Linked DNA regions of Homo sapiens. The protein of the gene in region 3 purifies or fractionates together with the protein of the main gene of each other region. This does not show direct contact. Each region holds a gene or a part of one and is shown on either strand. Other genes may lie near its edges.

Region 1 (3,500 bases), on a different chromosome or scaffold from region 3:
TGTTCCGACTAAAGTGGATATGATGGCTTTCCTTTTCTGGCTGCCCTTACGTGTTTCTAGCAGGACCTGTGTGTTCTGCACTTGCAGGCTTGAGTGTGGAGTCCTCCCGGCCCCCTGCCTGTTCATCTAGGGCACAGGTTTCCCCTTGCTGGTTTTCTGTAGTCCTGTTCTCCTGGATGCAGGCCAGGCCTCATGGCGTGCACATGCGCCCTGTGCCCCTTGGTGGGAGAGTCCGTTATCCTTCCTGCAGCCCTGGGGGCGGTTCTTAGGACCCCTGTGGACCCCTGCTGCCTTTTGGATAGTGGTCACTCTGGCTTCCTTCCCTTCTGCTGTCTGGCCCGGGCCCGAGAGGTCAGTCCTCCAGTGACCTGTCATTTTGTCTCCCAGGCTCGGCTGTCTCCTTCCTCTCTCATCATGATTCACTGTGGGGGAGGGGTCAGCCAGTTCTTTCTCTCTGGCCCAAGGACAGCTGACCCCCGACCCTAAACTCCCCCACTGCCCAGCTGTTGATAGCCAGAGCTCTGCTCAACACTGTCTCTTGACTAACAGATCTTTTGGGGTCTAACTGCCCCTTCCTCCTCTCTGATCTCTGATTGGGGTAGGGGTGCTGGGTGGAGTTACCGGGGTGTGGGCAGATCCCCAGATTCCGTCTAGACCCATTCTCGAAAACCGGGGATCCCATCCCCCACCCGTGGCCTTCTTGCCCAGATCTTTGGGCTGGCTGCCAGCTCCGGGGCCAGAGTAGGGAGCCTGGGATTCAGAGACTGAGGACAGAGGCCCAGAGGGATACAGAGGCAGTTATAAAGACTGTGTTTTGGGGGCCTTGAACTAGCTTTGGTCAGGGACTAGGAAAGGACACCCCCAAACCACATGAAAATGGTGTGCTAGGCACTAAGCCTCAGGCGTTGACAGGGCAGAGCACAGGTAGGTCCTCGGCAGTTTCCTGGGTCTGGAAAGGAGGGGCCTGTATCGAAAGAAGTTGCTTTCCCTCATCTGCACTTGGGTTTGTGCAACTGACTGAGTCACATAGAATCCTGGCTGCGTGGAGTTTTACAACAGTCGGCCTCACAGTACAAACACCGAAGGCCGCTTTTCTTGAAGGAAACACCTTCCATGGAGAGGCGATTGTGCATTGTGGGGCCAGGGTGTGATGAATGGGCAAGGACCCAGGACTCTGGCCAGTAGCGGGCACAGAGTGACTGAGAGGCAGAGGTAGGAGATGCAGATTCCCCAACCCGAGCTGTTGCCCTCACCTGCTCCTCAAATCGCACACTTCCCTCCTTTTCTCGCAGTCCTGGATGTTCCGTCCTGGAGCTGATGAAACACCTGCGGCCAGGGTCTCGGAGGTCCACAGTGGGTGGAGGGTGGGGGTCCCGAGAGATGGCCGCCAACCCTCAGGCCGTGCAGCTATTTGATGGGAAAAGCTGGTTGTGAAAGAGCTGGCAGTGGTTCTGCAGTGTGTGGGGAGCGTATTTGTGTGTGAAAGGGGAAGGGAGAGCAGGAGAACATAGAGGGGCCGCGTAAGTGTGGCGAAGTGGCGGTCTTGCTTTATGGGGCTCTGGATTAAGATGGTGGCAAGGCGGAGAGGAGCCCTCCTTCCTTCCCTGCTCAGCCTAAAATGGCTTCTGGAAGAGCAAGGGCCGCAAGCTGCTGGTATCCCTCTGCAGCAGGTCCTGGGCAGTGCAGGCATGGGTGGGTTGGGCGGGGGATCTTCCTGACTACAGCTCCTAGCATTCCTGTTCCTGGAGTTTCCAAAACTGGGGAAGCAGAACTGAGCCATAGCTTCCCTGGTTGCCGCTCTGCTGATAGAACACCCAGGTCTGCAAGCGAGGAAAGAAGGCCATTGGAGATGACCTGGGTTCGCACTCTGGCACTGGGAGATTGTTGAGATGTGATACCATGCTCGGTGGATGATTCCAGTTAGTCTAGCAGAGCCAATGGCATTGAGTTTACACCTGGCACCGGGTAGGGGGAGGTGCTCACCCTCCCTCTCCAGGCACCCACATCCCCTCTTTCTTCACTAGAAGCCCACCCTAAGATGCTGCACCTTGGTATTTGTGCCACACACGGTAGCCACCCCCAGGCCTCCCCACGCCAAGGCCAGAGCCCCATTGTTGACTAGAACCCATTGTGCTGTCCTAGCCCCTTCCCTGGCTTTACCTACAGGTGTTCCCTCAGATTCCATCGCCAAGTGAGAGGGAGACAGTGGTGGCCCAGAGAAGTTCGATGACTTGGCCCTTGATCTAGAGTGGGAGATTTCGCCTTGATGGGTGCTGGGAAGGAAGAATGGAAACCCGTCTTTCCATCTGCAAGTCTCTGAGCTACCCCTGAAGCCGCGAGGTCATGGGACTGAGGGGGAGTCGTTAGCATGCCCTGTGGGGACAAGCAGCCAGGCAGTGTGGTGCTTGCCATCGCTCTTCCCTCTGGCTGTAAGATGAATGGGTAGCAGGCTGCTCATCGCCCTCCAACCAGCCCCCTCCCCAGCTCCTCCCAGCAGGCCTTGCAGTTGCATGGGCATTCCCTTGCCATGGCAGCCCTGCCCCACAAGGACAGGGTATGCTGGTCCTCTTATGGGGGTGGCAGATGAGGTGCGTGCCCAGTGACGTCCCTGGCCTGTGAACACTCTGGTTCTGGCCCTTTGAACTTCCACCTGACTGCAGGTTGGAGAAGAGAGATGGGGAAAGCCTGACCTGGCCTTCCCTTTCTTCTTCAGCGTCAGAGTGCGTATCTCTCTCCCCCTATTGGTGAACAGAAGCAAAGCCATCACCCCTGCACCCCAAGACCTCGGCCACCATAGCCAAAATGATGGGTGCTAAATGTACTGGGCAGGACCATGTATTCCGTGGTTTTAAACTTACTTAGCTCTGAACTCTTTATTTGGTAAAATCCTACCAAGAAGTGCAGATACCAAGTTGATGAAATGGAGCACTTCTCAGGGCCCATGCCCAGGTGAGGGAGCCCAGCGGGACCCCCAGAGGCTCCCAGGGCATCCTTGGGAGGATAAGCCTTTTGTGCTTGCTGGTGCCGGGGCTGCGGCTGGGACCCAATTCCTTTGATTCCTGAGCCAGAGCGCCACCTTTGGGGCTCTTCTCCCACTTCCGACGTGAAAGGCTGCCCTGTCCTCCTGAGTGGTATATGGGAGGTGACTTTGAGGAGCTGGTCAGCTTCCAGTAAGTTACGAAGAGCTCTGCATCCAGAGTCTCAAAGTCTCATCCGGATCCCAGGCCCAACACTCACAGTGAGTGACATCAGCCAGATCACTTCATCTCCCAAGACTTCATTGATTCACCTGTAAAAGGAGATGTTTGAAACAGATGAATTTCAAGCTCCTTTTTATTAATACCTCACCATCATCACCGCCGTCATAAGCAAGCATGCAGCCCACAGCAGAGCTGCCCCTGGCGCCTGTGGGTCCAGCTGGGATTCCCCTAAGGTGTGTCCTTTGCCTCCACCATTTTGCCAGGAGGGAGGCGGGAATGTCGGGTGTTCCTGGTTATCTG
Region 2 (3,500 bases), on a different chromosome or scaffold from region 3:
GTCCCAGCCCCTGTCCCCCACCTGCCACCCACTGGGCTTCTGAATATTTTGCCAGGATGCCAACCCTTGTCCCCTGCTCCCCTCACCCAGCCCCTGCCCACTCCCTGGGCCCCCTTCCTGCTCTGGTTTGTGTTTCTCAGTGCTGTCCTCAGGTGCCTGGCTGTTAAAAGAGCAACTCTCAGCCCTGTTAGGAGACTCTCCCACTCACCATCTGGCTTTGGACAGTCCCTTCAGGGGGACGTAGTCGGGCAGCAGAAGAGGACACACTCAGGGAGTTGATCCCACAGAGGCATGCACACACTGGAGCAGACCCCTTGCCCACCACACCAGTCCAATCTCTCCAGGGCCCCACTCACGGGGTCTCCAGCTCAGCCAGCTCGTCCTCGCCGAGCTGGTCCTCCTGCAGCAACTCGGGTGGGGTGCTCACTTTGGCCTCTTTGGTCACTGCCAGAGGCAGTGAGGCCTCCTCGGTGGGTGTCAGGGGAACCTCACCTGCAAGGGGCCAAGGGTACTCAGCAGAAGCAAGGCAGGACAGGAGACGGGACAATCGAGTTGGGTGGACCCATCTCAGCACACTCCCTCACCCAGATTGTCTCGGAGAGCGCTGGCTTCCAGGTGAGGGTCGAAGTGATGGTTGGGCACCAGCTTCAGACGCATGCGTGAATATGTCTCGGCGCTGGACAGTTTCCAGCGGGGGATGGGAGTGTCCCTGCAGAATGTCCCCCAGGTCATGGGTCGGTAGAAGGCTGTAGACACCCCCATCCCTCCCTGGCCTCACCCCAAAGGCAGTCTGGGGCTCCAGGTGGCTCCCTCCCTCCCAAGCCCCACCCCTCCACAGCGACCCTGCCCCAAGCCCGGCCCACCTCAGCGCCCAGGCCCCACATGGGCTGGCGAGCTGGCGCCACAGCGCCCCCCAGTGCAGCAGGGCCATGGAGTGCTGCGTTGCCTGCTGCTTCAGCACTGCCGTGTAGCGTAGCCCCTCCAGGCGCGCCCGCCTCTGCGCAGGTTCCAGCACCAGCTCCTGGGGTGGGGGTAATAGGTCAGTCCCCTGGCTGCTGCCTGCCCTACCCGTTTCTCCACATTGTCAGTCATCTCCTGGGTGCATGTGTGGAGCAGTTTCCCATCCCTTACCCCGGGTGGCACACCTGGAAGGCCCGACGACTCTGGGCGCGCTCCCACTGGCGCCGCTGCCCACTGCTCATAAGCATGTCATAGCAGGCATTCCAGAAACCTGACATAAGGTCGTGGCTCTTAGCATACGTGTCCATTTCGAACTGGGACATGGTTGGCTGTACCTGGAGGATTGGGCAGAGGAGAACAGTGCTCGATGTGGGCCCCAGCCCCCACTCCTCTTCCTGGGCCCCAACCTCCAGGCACCTGTTTGTCGATGAAGTGGCGCCATTCGGGTGTGGCACAAAAAGCCTGGAAGTCTTCAAAGAAGGTGGGGCTGCCATTGGTGGGTGGCAGGGAGGGCAGTCCCCACTGCAGCCCCAGCGGCTCATAGGCACGGTCTAGCAGCGTGCGCACCAGTGGCACCAGCCAGGAGCAGCGCTCTGCAGCTGCTGCAGCTGCTGCAGCTGCAAGTGGGGACCCTGCCTCATCAGTGGCTGACTCCAAGGAAGAGGTGTTCAGCACCCGCCCCAGTGCAGCCTCCAGCTTGGAGAGCACATAGCAGGCCTCCTCGCGGCGGGCTGGCACTGCAGTCTGTAGCAGCATGTGCAATCTCACGTAGGCCTGGGCATGCAGCTGTGGGCGCAAGAGAGATGAGTGGCACCCAGCCACTCTTGGAGCTCCCGACATCTCACACGCCCCCTGCCCCCATGCTCACCCTGTGCTCACCTGTGGGTCTTCCAGCAGGATGTAGCCAAGTACAAGCCGTAGGCCAATCTGCGCCATCTCACGGAGATCAGCTGTGCCGTTGGCCAGGTGGGGCCAGGCTCCCAGGCGATCAAGTAGGCTGCATACACCTTCAAAGAGCTGCCACAGAAAACAGGTTCCCAACAGACATCACCAGGGGAGGCCAGGAGTCCATGGAAAGGGAGCAAAGTAAAGTTTGCGCTGGGGGCCAGGTAGGGTTTGTGCACACAGGCAAGTCCACACTCACAGGCATTCATGCTGATGCACCCACACCTGCGCACGTGTACCCATCCACCTCCCAGACCAGATCCCTGCAGGCTTGCATGAACATGAGTGTTCATGTGGCTCACGCCTCTCTGAGGGGTCGCACCTTCTCACTCCACAGTTCCTGGTTACCATGGCCTTCAGCACACAGGAAGTCCTGCAGCAGACGCAGCAGCCAAAGCGCTTGCTGGGTGAGGCTGGCCAGGACCCCCACGGGGGCCTCTTTGATGTCGGTCAGGGCTGACTCCAGCATCATCTCCAGGAGGCTGGCGGGTGAGTGGGGAACTCAAGGGTCTACCTGACTATCTTCTCTCCTTCCCCCGAGGCTTCCTGAAGCCCCTCCCCCTCCAGACTTTCCCTCTCACCTGCGCTTGATGCAGTCTGGTGGGCGCACAAGTGTGGCTGAGGCCCCCAGCTGGGTGAGCACTGAGAAAACCTGGCCACGCTCCCGCCAGGCAGCCTCATCGCTGCCTTCCACGCCACGCCACGTCACCGAGAACAGCACGTTGGTGAGCAGATTGCACAACTCTTCCTCAGAGGTTTGCTGTGGGCACAGGTGGGTGGTGTGGGCGTGGGTTGTGGGCGGCTAAGGGAGGGAATCAGGCTGACGCCCACCCATCCCCACTCAGCACCCCTCCTGGGGTAGCCACCCAGGAGTCAGAGCATTTGGCTAACAGTGAGCCTGGCACTAAGGGCCTGGAAGAATGGTATAGGGGTCTCAACTACTACCTGAGTTCCAGGCAGAATCCTGGGGTCTTGCCAGACTCCCAAGAGGAGATGAGGCAGTTCACATAGAACAAGCAGAGGCCCATCCCCAAACCCAGAAGCCCAGGGCAGGGCCTTTGGAGTTTGCTGCCCTTGGACCCTGTGAGGTGTCTGCCCTACAGGCTCTCTTGAGGGCCCTTCTGAAGCCTGGCTGGTGTCACCCACTGTGGCTCATCATGACTCACCCTGTTCCAGGAGCCCTCTGGGAACACAACTGCAGATGAGAGCTATGAGGGGACAGCAATAGGCCTGACCAGTGGCTGCAACCCTGGTCAGACAGGGCCACACCTTTGGAGAGGCTACACTGCCAGCCCTGTGTACCAGAAGTGTCCTCCCTTGGGTACCATGCAGTGGCAGAGGGTGGGCCCACCTCACCTGTGGGTTGCTGGTGTTCGAGGTATCATCCCCGCTAATGGTGGGCTCCGGGAGGCTGCCGTCCTCCAGCACATTGGAGAGACTGGAGCTGTGGCGGCCAGGAGCAGCAGGAAAGGGCCGCGGCCCATCCAGTGGCGAAGGAGTGCCGGGCTGGCTGGCTGGAGTAAGAGTCCCACTGCTGCCGCCACCACCAGCAGTGTTGCCTGATCCTACACTAGACCGTTCCAGGCCCAGGTCAA
Region 3 (3,500 bases):
GTGCAATGGCGCGATCTCAGCTCACCACAACCTCTGCCTCCTGGTTTCAAGTGATTCTCCTGCCTCAGCCTCCTGAGTAGCTGGGATTACAGGCAGGAGCCACCACGCCCGGCTAATTTTGTATTTTTAGTGGAGACGGGGTTTCACCATGTTGGGCAGACTGGTCTGGAACTCCAGACCTCAGGTGATCCGCCTGCCTTGGCCTCCCAAAATGCTGGGATTACAGGCACGAGCCACCGTGCCTGGCCTGCAATTTTTAATCAAGCATGTACCAGCGAGGAAAAGTTCACAAGCCCAGCCTTAACTTGATGTTTTTTAAAAAAGGGCATGAGGCCGGGCGTGATGGCTCACACCTGTAATCCCAGCACTTTGGGAGGCCAAGATGGGTGGATCACGAGGTCAGGAGATGGACACCATCCTGGCTAACACAGTGAAACCCCATCTCTACTAAAAATACAAAAAAAAAAATTAGCCGGGCATGGTGGCGAGCGCCTGTAGTCCCAGCTACTCGGGAGGCTGAGGCAGCAGAATGGCGTGAACCTGGGAGGCGGAGCTTGCAGTAAGTCGAGATCACGCCACTGAACTCCAGCCTGGCAGCCTGGGCGACAGAGTCAGACTCCATCTCAAAAAAATAAAATAAAATAAAATAAAGGGCATGTAATAGGAAGTTAACACTACGTAATATTTTAGTTTCATTAAGGTACAGTGGCTCACGCCTGTAATCCCAGCACTTTGGGAGGCTGGGGCTGGAGGACTGCCGGAGCTCAGGAGTTCGAGACCAGCCTGGGCAACGTGGCGAATCAAGATTCAAATCCAAGTCTGACTCCCTCAGAAGTCAAAATTCTCCTAAGTATATGATAGAAAACTATCTGTAGTCTAAAACAAGCAAACTAAAAGTTATCATTACCAGATTAGGAAACATGTTTTAAAATATGATGCTTAGGGCAAGGTGCTCACGCCTGTAACCCCAGCAATTTGGGAGGTCAAGGCGGGAGGATCACTTGAGGCCAGACCAGCATGGGCAACAGAGCAAGACTGTCTTAAAAAATTAGCCAGCATGTGGCCGGGTGCAGTGGCTCACGTCTGTAATTCCAACACTTTGGGAGGCGGAAGCAGGCAGATCACAAGGTCAGGAGATGGAGACCATCCTGGCTAACACAGTGAAACCCCATCTCTCTTTTCTTTTTTTGAGACGGAGTCTTGGTCTGTCGCCAAGGCTGGAGTGCAATGGCGCGATCTTGGCTCACTGCAACCTGCACCTCCCGGATTCAAGCAATTCACTGCCTCAGCCTCCCAAGTAGCTGGGATTACAGGTGCCCGCCACCACGCCTGGCTAATTTTTTTTTTATTTTTAGTAGAGATGGGGTTTCACCATCTTGGCCAGGCTGGTCTTGAACTCCTGACCTCGTGATGCACCCGCCTCGGCCTCCCAAAGTGCTGGGATTACAGGCGTGAGCCACCACGCCCGGCCACCCCATCCCCCTGCAAAACATTAGCCAGGCATGGTGGTGGGCGCCTGTAGTCCCAGGTACTCAGGAGGCTGAGGCAGGAGAACGGCATGAACCCAGGACACAGAGCTTGCAGTGAGCCGGGATCGCACCACTGCACTCCAGCCTGGGTGACAGAGCAAGACTCCATCTCAAAAAAAAAAAAAAAAAAAAAAAAAAAAAATTAGCCAGGTGTGGTGGTGTACTATTGCAGTCCCAGCTACCTGGCAGGCTGAGTGGGGAGGATCTCTTGAGCTCAGGAATTCGAGGCTGCAGAGAATCTCTGCAGGAATCTCTTGGCTGGGTACCAAGAGAACAAGACCCTGACTCAAAAAAAAAGACGCTTAGAAGCCTGAGCTCACACTTGACTCTGGAAACTTTTACCTTGCTTAAGCTGCAAAGGTAAAATATACATCAGTCATGTTTCCTCCCTCTTTTTTTTTTTTTTTTTTTTTTTGAGACAAGGTCTCACTCTGCCATCCAGGCTGGAGTGCAGTGGCACGATCTTGGCTCACTGCAACCTCCGCCTCCTGAGTAGCTGGGACCACAGGCGCATGCCACCACGCCTGGCTAATTTATGTATTTTTTGTACAGACAGGGTTTCACCATGTTGTCCGGGCTGGTCTTGAACTCCTGAACTCAAAGTGATCCGCCCACCCCAGCCTCCCAAAGTACTGGGATTACAGGTGTGAGCCACCACGCCCGGCCCAGTCATGTTTCTTCAATTGGTTATTTAGATTCTGTGCCTTTAATAGATGGAACTGTCAAATATGGAAGTGTTTAGTAACTGAGAGGAGGGCAAAGGTCCTGAAGTCAGGTTGTGGGCTGGGACTTAGCCACCTGCCCCAAATGCTAAAGTCCTGGGATGAACACTGAGCAAAATGGGTTTCACAAGGAAGAACTGGGAGCTCTTCCAACCAGCCTTCTCTCCATGAGCACCCACTTTGGGACTTCGATATGCTGCTCCCATCATGAAGGCTCTGGTTCTTCACTACCCCTCACCTTCAACCTCACTGTCAGTTGGCTCTATCAATGAAATCTCTTTTTAGCTTCTCTCCTGGAAAATTCTCATGTACCTTGGATTCTTTTTTTTTTTTTGAAATGGGGTCTCACTCTGTCACCTGGGCTGGAGTGTAGTGGCGCAATCGTTAACTCCTCTAACTCCTGAGCTCAGGGATCCTCCTGCCTCAGCCTCCCAAACTATTGGCATTACAGGCATGAGCCATAATTCCCGGTTCCCCGCTTTCCTTTATTTTCAAGACCAGTCTTGCTATGTTACCCAGGCTGAAGTGCAGTGGTAACACCATCACTCACTGTAGCCTCAAATTCCTGGGCTCAAGCAATCCTCCCATCCCAGCTTCCCGAGTAGGGCTAGCCTTGGGTTTTTCTTAAAAAATCACCTAACCATCATTTGCTCAGAATTTTAAGGCTAAACAATCAGGATTTTTCATGGTAAAAATCCATTACGCACTGATTAATCAAGCAGCGCCACATCCCCAGAGTCCCCAGGCAAGCACTGACTCATTAGAAATCCCAGTTGTCATGTTCCTGAGCTTGATGCATTCCAGTGTCCCTCAACTGTCAAAAGACTCAGAAATGCTAAATGCTGCACTCTGGATTCAACTCCCTGCTCCTGGGGTTCATCTTCCCTTTTGAAAGCTTTTCCTGTCTGTGGTACTTGCAAGCACAAACCTTGAGGTATTTTTCCAGCATCTTCACTATATGTCTGTTGTTCAAAACACTCTTAGCCACATGGAGACTGGTTTTCTTGAACTGTTCAGCAGCCAACTGCAAAGGGAACCAAATGTGAGCTCTTAAAAATGGCAAAGATTAAGGAAGAGAATAAACCAGCCAGGCTCTGCCGAGTCATCCTGAGATCAGCCCTATGCAGAGAAGCGAATCTCAAAACGCCAGCCTCCAAGAATAGAAGGCTCCAGAGACTGTGCAACCAAGACTAACAAACTGGAAAAGCTAGGCAATCTTAAGAGATAAATGCAAAGATGCACCACTGAT
Region 4 (3,500 bases), on a different chromosome or scaffold from region 3:
CTACCCTCTAGGTTTACGTAAGTACATCCTATGATGTTTGCACAATGACAAAATCACCTAACACCATTTCTCAGAATGTGTCGGCACTGTCAAGGAACCATGCATAACTGTATTTACCATTTCCTTCCTTCTAGTTACTTTGTATCTAATTTGTTCCTTTATTTAGGTTTGTATCTAATTTGTTCCTTTATTTAGGTTGTTAAGGAGGAAACAGACGTCACTGATTTTATACCTTCTTCTTTTCTAATATAGTCATGTAAAGCTATACATTTCCCTCAAAGAACTGTATTAGTTATATCCTATAAATCTGTATATTTTCTTCCATTACTCAGTTCAAATTATTTTCTAATTTCCCTATTAATTCTTCTTTGATCCAGTATGTTAATTTCCTATTTGAGGATTTTCTAGATCTCATATTATTTATTTCTAACTTAAAAGCACAGTAGTCGATAAACATACTCTATAATTTGGGTCCTTTGAAGCTTATTGGGACATTTTAATGGCCCAGCATACGGTCTATCTTGGTGACTGTTCCATATGAACTTGGGAAGAACGTGTTCTCTAGCTTTGTTGGGAGTGGTGTTTAAGAGATGACAGGGTGATTGATGGTACACTTGGGAAGAATGTGTACTCTAGCTTTCTTGGGAGTAGCGTTAAGAGATGACAAGGTGATTGACGGTATTCTTCAGAGCTTCCAAATCCCTATGAGTGTTCTGATCTATCTGTTTTTTCAATAATTGAGAGAAGAAGAGTTAAAAGTCTCCAACCATGATTATGAATCTGAATATAGTTCCCTTTAGTTCTGTCCAATTTTGCTCTTTTGTACAAAAGAGTTATCAGAACAGACCTTACTGTTATGCTTTGAAAGACCAGCTTAGAAGTCTGCCCTTTTGCTGGAGTCTGGGAACTTAGATTTCAAGAGAGTTCCTACCACCTAACTGGTAAGAGGAGCTCACTGTGCCTAAACTGTTTATGTACTGTGGCTTATGCTAAACACGTGTTTCCCTTCTGAGAGTCTGGAATTTTGGACATGCTACACAACATTTCACGTGTGTTGTTACAATTCATTGCTGGAGGAATCAAACGCATCCTGTGTGACTCAACTGAGAGAGGACTCTTGGAAGCTTGTACCCTCTTCCCTCAGACATCCCCCATATGCCTCCTCCCTTTGCTGATCTTGCTCTGTATCCTTCTGCTGGATCAACCTTAGCTGAGAGTATGACTACATGCTGAGTCATGTGAGTCCTCTTAGAGACTCTTCAAACCTGGGAGGTGGTCTTGGAGGCCCCTAACACAAGTGCATACACATTTAGAGATTGTTACGTTTCCTTGATGATCACTGTCTTTATGAGGTGCCCCTTTATTTCTGGGAATACTCTTCACCTTGAAATCTACTTTTTCTGATACTAGTATAGATGCAAAGCTTTCTTTGCTTAGTATGTACATGGTTTATATTTTTCCACCCTTCTACCTGCAACCTGTTTACGTCTTTATGCTTAGAGTGCACTTTTTTGTAAACAACATGTAATTGGGTTTTAAATAACTTTTAACATACGACTTTGGATCAGGAATTCCACTTCTAGGAATTATTCTACAGACATATCTGTACATGAAAAAAATGAGGTTATTCACTGTAGCAGTGCCTATAATAGCAAATGACTGGGAAAAGTCTAAATGTTCATCAATCACGGCCTCACTCAATAAATGATGGCTCATTCATATAAAGAAACACCTTGCGGTCTTAAGAACAATAAAATTTTCTTCATGTAATAACATGAATGATCGATAAGACATACTGCCTGAATTTTTTTGAAAAGCAAGGTACAGTGCCGGGCATGTGGCTACACCTGTAATCCCAGCACTTTGGGAGGTAGAGGCGGGCAGATCACCTGAGCTCAGGAGTTTGAAACCAGCCTGGCCAACATGGTGAAACCCCGACTCTACCAAAAATACAAAAACTTAGCCGGGCATGGTGGCGCACATCTGTGGTCCCAGCTACTTGGGAGGCTGAGGAAGGAGGATCACTTGAGCTCAGGGGGAGGAGGTTTACAGTGAGCTGAGATCACACCACTGCACTACAGCCTGGGTGACAGAGTGAGACTTCATCTCAAAAAAAAAGAAAGAATGGTACAGAACGGAATACAGGAAGTACCATTTGCATTTTAAAAAGGAAAAATAAATGTAGGTATATTTACTTGTATTTGCTTAGAATTTAAGAAAGTTGTACGAAAACACACTGTATCTAGGGTGATACACCAGGTGCCTGGGGATGCCATGGGATGATTCACTTTTCCTCTGCATCCTTGTCAACTTTGAACTACGTGCATTACCTTTTCACAAATAAAAATAAAATGAAATGGGGAAATAAAATTTCCTTTGCAAAACTCCTAGGAAAGAGGGAAGGGCTATCAACTATCCTGTGAGCTTCTGGAAGGCGGCTGAGCCAGACCAGGAGGGTGGCATCCCAGCTAAAGCCGTCGCCCTGGGCAGCTGGCTTCACTCTTAATTAGCAGGTGCTGCTGCTCGTCTATAAAACGGGAGTAAGGTGGTGGCAGCCTCATAGAGCTGCTCTGAGGATTAAGTGAATGAACACAGTGAAGTGCTAGAAGTAAAGCTACAAAAGCAGCAGCCACCACAGTACCTACCACAGTGGCAAAGACACAGCAGGTGCTCAATCCAAGGGCTTGGAATTGAACGATATAGAACATCAGTGATTTAATAATAGTAAATTAGTCACAGACCCGGGGCTCCAACAACTGAATATATGTGAATATCACTCTCCCAGCTGCAGAGGAAAACGGCCTTGCCAAGCCAAATCCTGTAAAAAGGGTTGACAATGGCAAGACTGATCCTTCTCACGCATTCCCACCGGCCACTGGGCCTCACGAGGACAATCCAATCGTGTGGGTGTCCCGTGGGCAGCAGCACAGAAGCACCAGCTTGTCCAGCAGGTTCCCCGCCAGCTGAAGGGCACAGATGGATGTGCCGCCATCAGGGCCTGGGCCTGAGTGTGCCCAAGGCCGTGGTACATCCAGCCACGCACAGAGCTGCCAGAATGCCCGTAGCTCAGCCCCTGCAGTCCTCACTGCCAGGCTGAAAGCGGGCCATGCTGAGCCATGCACAAGGCCACCTGGCTCACAAATAACCCAGGAAATCAGAGTACTTGGGTTTTTAAATTGCTCCACTGTGGGCAGAAAGAAACCCTACCCAGAGTCAAAAGTGCTGACCATGTCATTGAATCATAGATTCTCTTTGCTGATGGGCCACTTTGCATCCGAATACTGCCAAGGCCCAAGGTAATGGGTATGGTGGTATAAGACTCAAACGAGTAAGTGAAAATCAATACAGATGCTCTTTGACCTATGATGGGACTCTATCCTGTTTAAGTTGAAAATGTCATAAGTTCAAATGCATTTAATACCCTTAACCTACTGTACATCAGAGCTTAGCGTGGCCCAGCTTCAACATGGTCAGAACACTTGCATGTTCCTACAACTGGG
Region 5 (3,500 bases), on a different chromosome or scaffold from region 3:
CCTGTCAGCTATGGCAAAACATACTTACAGCTCGCTGCTCTGCATAAGCTCGATGAGATCCATAAAAAGCACATCCCGGTTCCTTTCACAAAAGCCATCCATGTCATAGGATACCTGGCCAAGAATGGAAAGAAATCGAATTTCATTGAACAAAATGTAATTAATTGAACAAAATCATTTATTGAACAAAAAATCTAATTTCACCAAACAAAAAACCAAAGCTGTCATGGCTACCCTCACCACAACATGTGGATTTCCAGATGTTGCATTTGGGATTTCATTGTGCACTGTCACAGGAAGGCTGTGCACGTCTTACTTGTTAGCTGACTTAGTGGGGAAGGCCTGCAGATGCTGATGAGTATCTGGCTGCCTGGATGGCCCAGCTGATCCGTAATCAGAACTCCAGCTCTCAAGTCCCCATACCCCTTCTTCAGTGGATCCATAGGGGTGTCTAAGTGACATACTCAATACTTTTCCTAAATTTTAGCTAAGCCAGAGCAAAAGTGAAGCCCCTCATGCTCAGTAATTCACTGCAATGAGCCATGTCATCTGAGGCTTTGCAGTTTCTCCCAGAAGTGGTATCAAAGTTGCACCAATCTGGCCAGAAACTCATGCTCAGATACTCTGTTTAACAAGAGATCAGCTGGGATGATGGATGAGACCAGGGGATTTCCATAGCACTAGGAAGTCCCCAAGACCACGACCTCAACTTAACTTTTTTATCATCAGCAGCCCCACACAGCCTGGCATCCAGTAGGCACCCAATACTGATGGGCTTTATAAGAACACCAAAAGTGCACTCTGGGCCTTGATTTATACTACCAGTAGGCATGGGGAGACAAGGAATGCCAGTCTGTGATTCCAGCAAGAGGCAAGACGAAAATCCATTTATTCAGCAGCTAATACATGTAGCAGGGTGATTCATTTTCCAAAAATATGCAGTAGTATGCTGAGATTTAGTGCTGGAGTGACTCCCAGCCGGCCCCTACCCTGCTGAAGCCCCAGCCGACTGTCCCAGGGTGGGTCCTGGCCAGGACTGGCACCAAGGCAGTGGAATCCTTTCAAAATAGGCCTCCAGCGCCATAGACCAGAAAGCAGGCGCCCAATTCTGGGACACTGGGAGATGGTGCAGGCAGCCACCAGTACGCAAAGCATAGAGCCCTATCCTTCCTGGCAGGGTCACGGTTCAGAAAACGTAACCTTATTTTCATCTGTAGTTAACAGAAGCATGTTTCCTCAGCATTCATATTAAAAATAAAAAACTAGTAATTCCAGGGATCTCGGTTAGCCTCTTAAGCATGTCAACTATTGATAATACTCTTAGCAAAACTAACTCCAGAAATCACTTGCTAGAGAAGCAGCCCTTCACTGCCTTAGTCTGAGCACCCACGGAAAGCACGTGTCGGAGACTCTGGCAAGGCCCGCGCAGCCGCAGTAGAGGGCCAGGGGGCGGGGCACGCGCACCTGCCGTAGAGTGCTGAAGGTCCTGCCAACGGCTCTCTTGGCGTCTCAACGTTCGGATCAGCAGCTTTTTTCCATTCTCTCTCTCCACTTCTTCAGTGAGCAGCCATGAGTTGGACTGTGCCTGTTGTGCGGGCCAGCCAGAGAGTGAGCTCGGTGGGAGCGAATTTCCTATGCCTGGGGATGGCCCTGTGTCCGCGTCAAGCAACGCGCATCCCGCTCAACGGCACCTGGCTCTTCACCCCCGTGAGCAAGATGGCGACTGTGAAGAGTGAGCTTATTGAGCGTTTCACTTCCGAGAAGCCCGTTCATCACAGTAAGGTCTCCATCATAGGAACTGGATCGGTGGGCATGGCCTGCGCTATCAGCATCTTATTAAAAGGCTTGAGTGATGAACTTGCCCTTGTGGATCTTGATGAAGACAAACTGAAGGGTGAGACGATGGATCTTCAACATGGCAGCCCTTTCACGAAAATGCCAAATATTGTTTGTAGCAAAGATTACTTTGTCACAGCAAACTCCAACCTAGTGATTATCACAGCAGGTGCACGCCAAGAAAAGGGAGAAACGCGCCTTAATTTAGTCCAGCGAAATGTGGCCATCTTCAAGTTAATGATTTCCAGTATTGTCCAGTACAGCCCCCACTGCAAACTGATTATTGTTTCCAATCCAGTGGATATCTTAACTTATGTAGCTTGGAAGTTGAGTGCATTTCCCAAAAACCGTATTATTGGAAGCGGCTGTAATCTGGATACTGCTCGTTTTCGTTTCTTGATTGGACAAAAGCTTGGTATCCATTCTGAAAGCTGCCATGGATGGATCCTCGGAGAGCATGGAGACTCAAGTGTTCCTGTGTGGAGTGGAGTGAACATAGCTGGTGTCCCTTTGAAGGATCTGAACTCTGATATAGGAACTGATAAAGATCCTGAGCAATGGAAAAATGTCCACAAAGAAGTGACTGCAACTGCCTATGAGATTATTAAAATGAAAGGTTATACTTCTTGGGCCATTGGCCTATCTGTGGCCGATTTAACAGAAAGTATTTTGAAGAATCTTAGGAGAATACATCCAGTTTCCACCATAATTAAGGGCCTCTATGGAATAGATGAAGAAGTATTCCTCAGTATTCCTTGTATCCTGGGAGAGAACGGTATTACCAACCTTATAAAGATAAAGCTGACCCCTGAAGAAGAGGCCCATCTGAAAAAAAGTGCAAAAACACTCTGGGAAATTCAGAATAAGCTTAAGCTTTAAAGTTGCCTAAAACTACCATTCCGAAATTATTGAAGAGATCATAGATACAGGATTATATAACGAAATTTTGAATAAACTTGAATTCCTAAAAGATGGAAACAGGAAAGTAGGTAGAGTGATTTTCCTATTTATTTAGTCCTCCAGCTCTTTTATTGAGCATCCACGTGCTGGACGATACTTATTTACAATTCCTAAGTATTTTTGGTACCTCTGATGTAGCAGCACTTGCCATGTTATATATATGTAGTTGGCATTTGGTTCCCAAAAAGTAGGATGTAGGTATTTATTGTGTTCTAGAAATTCCGACTCTTTTCATTAGATATATGCTATTTCTTTCATTCTTGCTGGTTTATACCTATGTTCATTTATATGCTGTAAAAAAGTAGTAGCTTCTTCTACAATGTAAAAATAAATGTACATACAAAAAAATGCAGTAGTATATACAATCTTTTGTTTTGCTTCCTTTGATAGTTAATAAATTCCGTTTGTTGAATCAATAAAATACGGCGAGCCATATGATTTGCTTCATGAGAAACCAGATCACAAACCCAAAGGCTTAAAACAGATAGACATTAAAATGGATATTGGCCATACCTTCCCAGCATAATGATGAATGATGAAGCCTTGGTTCCAACTGTTGAAGTGCTCATGACTCCCAATCTGCATCTGAAGTTTCTGGAGCAGCGTCTGATCTGCCCCCTCACCCACCGCATGCATCGTGGCGCACACGTCATCCAGGATGCTCATGATGCCAGGAGGGTTCTGATGGGAGCAAGAAGGCAAGG
Region 6 (3,500 bases), on a different chromosome or scaffold from region 3:
CTTTGAAAAACATCATTCTCGGAGCTCCGGAAAAACATCCCCTCGGAGCTCCCGCTGTCAGATCCGGGTCTCCAGGGCTCATATTCAGTAACAGAAGCCGCACCTTCACGGCCCACTGCGCAATTCAGACCCTAGTCAACCTCCAGCCAACAGGCTGAGGGGCACACTGGCTGGAAGCATGGAAGGGAAAAAAAGTTTTTTTTTTTAAACATAAGGAACATCCGAAGTTTATCTGGACAACGAGGAATCTTGCATTAAAAAAGGAAAACAAATGACATCACATGTGCTACTTACATTTACTCTCTGAGCTCGGGAGAGGGCCGGCCCCGGCCCGGGGCGGCGGGAAGGAGAGGCAGCCCAGTCCCAGCTGTGGGCTCTTCTCGGCCTCCTTATACACCACCTGAAAGACACAAGGTGGCCACGCCCGGCTCAGGACAGGGACCCGGAAGCCAAGGATGGACGTGGCAAATGCCCATGACAGCGCATGGTCAACAGGTGTGCCTGCCATGACAGCTGGTCCTGCTGCCACCGGGAGAGACGGAAGCACGAACCCCGCAGTCCCGAGAGCTGAGATCACCCAGCCACCCTCTCTCGTGTCCTGCTGAGGAGCCCACCCTTTGAGACACAGGCAGCAAATGTGTGCCCTGTGATTACAGACGGGAGACCACTGCAGCCACCATCATCCAGCAAGGGAGTGGGCTCAGCCTTCCCTCCGTGATAAGAGGATACAGAGAACACTTGCACCAACACAGCAGAGGCCCCGGGAGCAGCAGACACAGACCCGAGGTGGGGGCATCTGTGCCCGAGAGCCTGGCAAGCAAAGGACAGCGGCCCAGGCTCAGTGGAAGGCGGGCAGCCCCTACGCCCCTGAAGAGCCCCAGGTAAGGGAGTCACCTGGCCTGGTTCATGCCTTTAAAGCATGCTCTGCTGCTGTGTGGCGAAGGGATTTGGAGAATGCAGGAATCACAGGCAAACCTTCAGGACCTGTGTGGCCAGCCCTGCTCGGGCTCACCTGTCCAGACACCCTGGCCTCCAGCCACACAAGCCACTGGCCACGTCAGGAGGCCCCTCTGCCTGAAACACCCTTTCTGCCCAGACACCGCGCAGCTCCTCCTCCTGGTCTTCACTTAAACACCCCTCCAGGATGCATCCCCGGCAGTGGCTGATCTGGCATGCGCAGCCCCAGCCACTCACTGGCCTCTTCATCGAATCCAAGCCGCCTTTCACTCAGCTCTGTCGGTTACAGGTCAACACCAGGAGGGCAGCATTTGTCTCTGGCTCCCAGCGCAGTGCCCGCTGCACACATGGATGCGTGGCCCACTCCTCGGGGCCTTTGCATTTCCTGTTCCCTTGGCCTGGAACGCTCCCTCCCCGAGTCCCTGATCACTGGTGCAGCATCTGTGCCTGCGATCCCTCGCTGGTGGCCACTCCCTGCCACCCCGTGGAGACACCCAGCTCTCCAGCCCCTTCCCTGTCTCTCCAGCCGCACTCTGCAAGTGCAGGGGTCTGTCTCTTCTTCTCTGGCTGCGGCCCAGAGCACAGTGCCTGGCACGACAGCAGATGCCCAGTGTTTGGGGGCAGGAGACCCTGGCCACTCTGTACAGCACAGGGATCTGCATCCAGACAGACCACAAAGGAGAAAACTGGACTGGGGTGGCAGCGGCAGAGGACAGGCCAGGGCAAGGCCCACTTCAGACCCTTTGGGCAGCGTGGAGGAGGAAGAACAAAGGCCAGGGCAGGGCCAGACGCGTGAAATGTCACAGTAGCAAGTTTACGGTGATGGAAGTGCCCGGTTAAATAATAAACCACAATCAAGAAAGCAAAGTGAAGGAGCAGTTTCCCACCGCCCTCCCCAACAGCCTGCTCAGGCAGAAACACGTGTTCCAGACTTACTATCTTGGGATCATTAATGGCTGCAGGATGCCCAAACTCCGTGATCATTTTCCAAGTCACGTGATTAAGGATGCGCACCTGAGGAAGGAAACCATGCACAGGTGAGGCAGGGCCCGGCCCGCTGGGCGGTCGGACTTCCTGAGTGCCCTGCACTGGTTCCCACCTTTCCATCATAGCTCCCAACTGCCAGGAACTGACTGCTGGGGCTCCAGGCCACAGACTTGATGCCCAGGGACCACTCGTAAGCGCTGTACGTGGACAACAACCGGCCATCCAATGAGTACAGCAGAATCTTGTACTGCAGATGAGACATTTCAGTTAATAATGAATACACCCCCGTCGCCAGGAACACACCACAGACGCGGGTGCTGCAGAGTGACATTGGTGCAGATAGCACAAAGCTGGCAGGACTGTCCGCGTGGCCGTGGAAAAGCTGGAACTGCCAGCTAGTACTGAGATAGTCACGGAGAGGCAGTGAGAGCATGAGGAAAAAGGGGAAATTGGGAGGTCAACCTAATGGCTCGCTGATAAAAGTTCAACTCGGCCGGGCACTGTGGCTCACGCCTGTAATCCCAGCACTTTGGGAGGCCGAAGCTGGCAGATCACTTGAACACAGAAGTTCAAGAGCAGTCTGGGCAACACGGTGAAACCCCATCTCTACAAAGAATACAAAAATTAGCCGGGCGTGGTGGTGCATGCTTGTGGTCCCAGCTACTTGGGAGGCTGAGGTAGGAGGATCACTTGAGTCCAGGAGGTCGAGGCTGCAGTGGGCCGTGATCACACCACTGCACTCCAGCCTGGGTGACAGAGCAAGACCCTGTCTTTTAAAACAAAGCTCAACTTGTTATCTGAAATAAGATAAAGCAAACTATATTGCAGCATTCAGAAAGCATGAAATTCCGGGAAAAGCTCTCGAAAGCAAACATGTCACCTGGTCATCTTCATACCTCCAAGCAGGTGTCCCACACTGCCAGCACACAGCCGTTTGGGGCCCACTCAATCCCTGTGAGATCCTGGGTGTCCGTATCAAAATGCTTCCAAAGGAAGGGGGGGAAACATTAAATTTGGAAAATATTTTCGTAAATAAATAATTGCATTTATGACTGATGTTCTTAACGCACTTAATTTCCTTATATAGAAATTGACAAAATCTCAACAGCTCTATCCTGGAAATGCATGAAATCCCTGTAGAGCTGCTGCTGGGGCTGCACCGCCACAGATGCCAGCGTCAGTGCCTGGCCAGCCCCCAAGGGCGGCTTGGTCTCCCCGCGCCTGCACTCGTGTGCACACTCTCCCCCTCACCTTTCCTTGCCTGGCCAGCCCCCGAGGGCGGCTTGGTCTCCCCGCGCCTGCACTCGTGTGCACACTCTCCCCCTCACCTTTCCTTGCCTGGCCAGCCCCCGAAGGTGGCTTGGTCTCCCCGCACCTGCACTCATGTGCACACTCTCCCCCTCACCTTTCCTTGCCTGGCCAGGCTCACTCCTTTAGACCCAGCTCAGACAAGTCCCTTCCAGAGCACTGCCTGGATCCCGGGTTCTGCACTCTGACAGCATTCCAGAGGTTGCTCTACCTTAATGATGGATTGTGCTGGAATCGTGTTCATATGT

Evidence for each region.
Region 1: the proteins of AKAP8 (region 3) and CCND2 purify together in Homo sapiens (affinity purification with western blotting, with the first as the bait; one study listed by BioGRID). This does not show direct contact.
Region 2: the proteins of AKAP8 (region 3) and NBEAL2 purify together in Homo sapiens (tandem affinity purification; one large-scale study listed by IntAct). This does not show direct contact.
Region 4: the proteins of AKAP8 (region 3) and NPHP4 purify together in Homo sapiens (co-immunoprecipitation; one large-scale study listed by IntAct). This does not show direct contact.
Region 5: the proteins of AKAP8 (region 3) and MYO1E fractionate together in Homo sapiens (co-fractionation; one large-scale study listed by BioGRID). This does not show direct contact.
Region 6: the proteins of AKAP8 (region 3) and WRAP73 purify together in Homo sapiens (co-immunoprecipitation; one study listed by IntAct). This does not show direct contact.

What each region holds. Positions count from the first base shown.
Region 1 is NC_000012.12:4,280,262-4,283,761, forward strand, and holds part of CCND2 (G1/S-specific cyclin-D2), read left to right. Parts: intron 1-3,500. UniProt on the Homo sapiens protein: Regulatory component of the cyclin D2-CDK4 (DC) complex that phosphorylates and inhibits members of the retinoblastoma (RB) protein family including RB1 and regulates the cell-cycle during G(1)/S transition.
Region 2 is NC_000003.12:47,000,166-47,003,665, reverse strand, and holds part of NBEAL2 (neurobeachin-like protein 2), read right to left. Parts: coding exon 3,262-3,500; intron 2,666-3,261; coding exon 2,487-2,665; intron 2,388-2,486; coding exon 2,228-2,387; intron 1,978-2,227; coding exon 1,840-1,977; intron 1,747-1,839; coding exon 1,378-1,746; intron 1,296-1,377; coding exon 1,146-1,295; coding exon of another isoform or gene 1,132-1,145; intron 1,022-1,131; coding exon 864-1,021; intron 710-863; coding exon 585-709; intron 493-584; coding exon 357-492; intron 1-356. UniProt on the Homo sapiens protein: Probably involved in thrombopoiesis. Plays a role in the development or secretion of alpha-granules, that contain several growth factors important for platelet biogenesis.
Region 3 is NC_000019.10:15,355,788-15,359,287, forward strand, and holds part of AKAP8 (A-kinase anchor protein 8), read right to left. Parts: intron 3,276-3,500; coding exon 3,180-3,275; intron 1-3,179. UniProt on the Homo sapiens protein: Anchoring protein that mediates the subcellular compartmentation of cAMP-dependent protein kinase (PKA type II).
Region 4 is NC_000001.11:5,982,426-5,985,925, forward strand, and holds part of NPHP4 (nephrocystin-4), read right to left. Parts: intron 1-3,500. UniProt on the Homo sapiens protein: Involved in the organization of apical junctions; the function is proposed to implicate a NPHP1-4-8 module. Does not seem to be strictly required for ciliogenesis. Required for building functional cilia.
Region 5 is NC_000015.10:59,205,372-59,208,871, forward strand, and holds part of MYO1E (unconventional myosin-Ie), read right to left. Parts: intron 3,478-3,500; coding exon 3,310-3,477; intron 3,218-3,309; exon of another isoform or gene 2,716-3,217; coding exon of another isoform or gene 1,570-2,715; exon of another isoform or gene 1,472-1,569; intron 115-1,471; coding exon 29-114; intron 1-28. Other genes in the region: LDHAL6B (L-lactate dehydrogenase A-like 6B), read left to right, coding at 1,570-2,715. UniProt on the Homo sapiens protein: Actin-based motor molecule with ATPase activity. Unconventional myosins serve in intracellular movements. Their highly divergent tails bind to membranous compartments, which are then moved relative to actin filaments.
Region 6 is NC_000001.11:3,633,104-3,636,603, forward strand, and holds part of WRAP73 (WD repeat-containing protein WRAP73), read right to left. Parts: intron 2,928-3,500; coding exon 2,841-2,927; intron 2,192-2,840; coding exon 2,057-2,191; intron 1,972-2,056; coding exon 1,894-1,971; intron 401-1,893; coding exon 295-400; intron 1-294.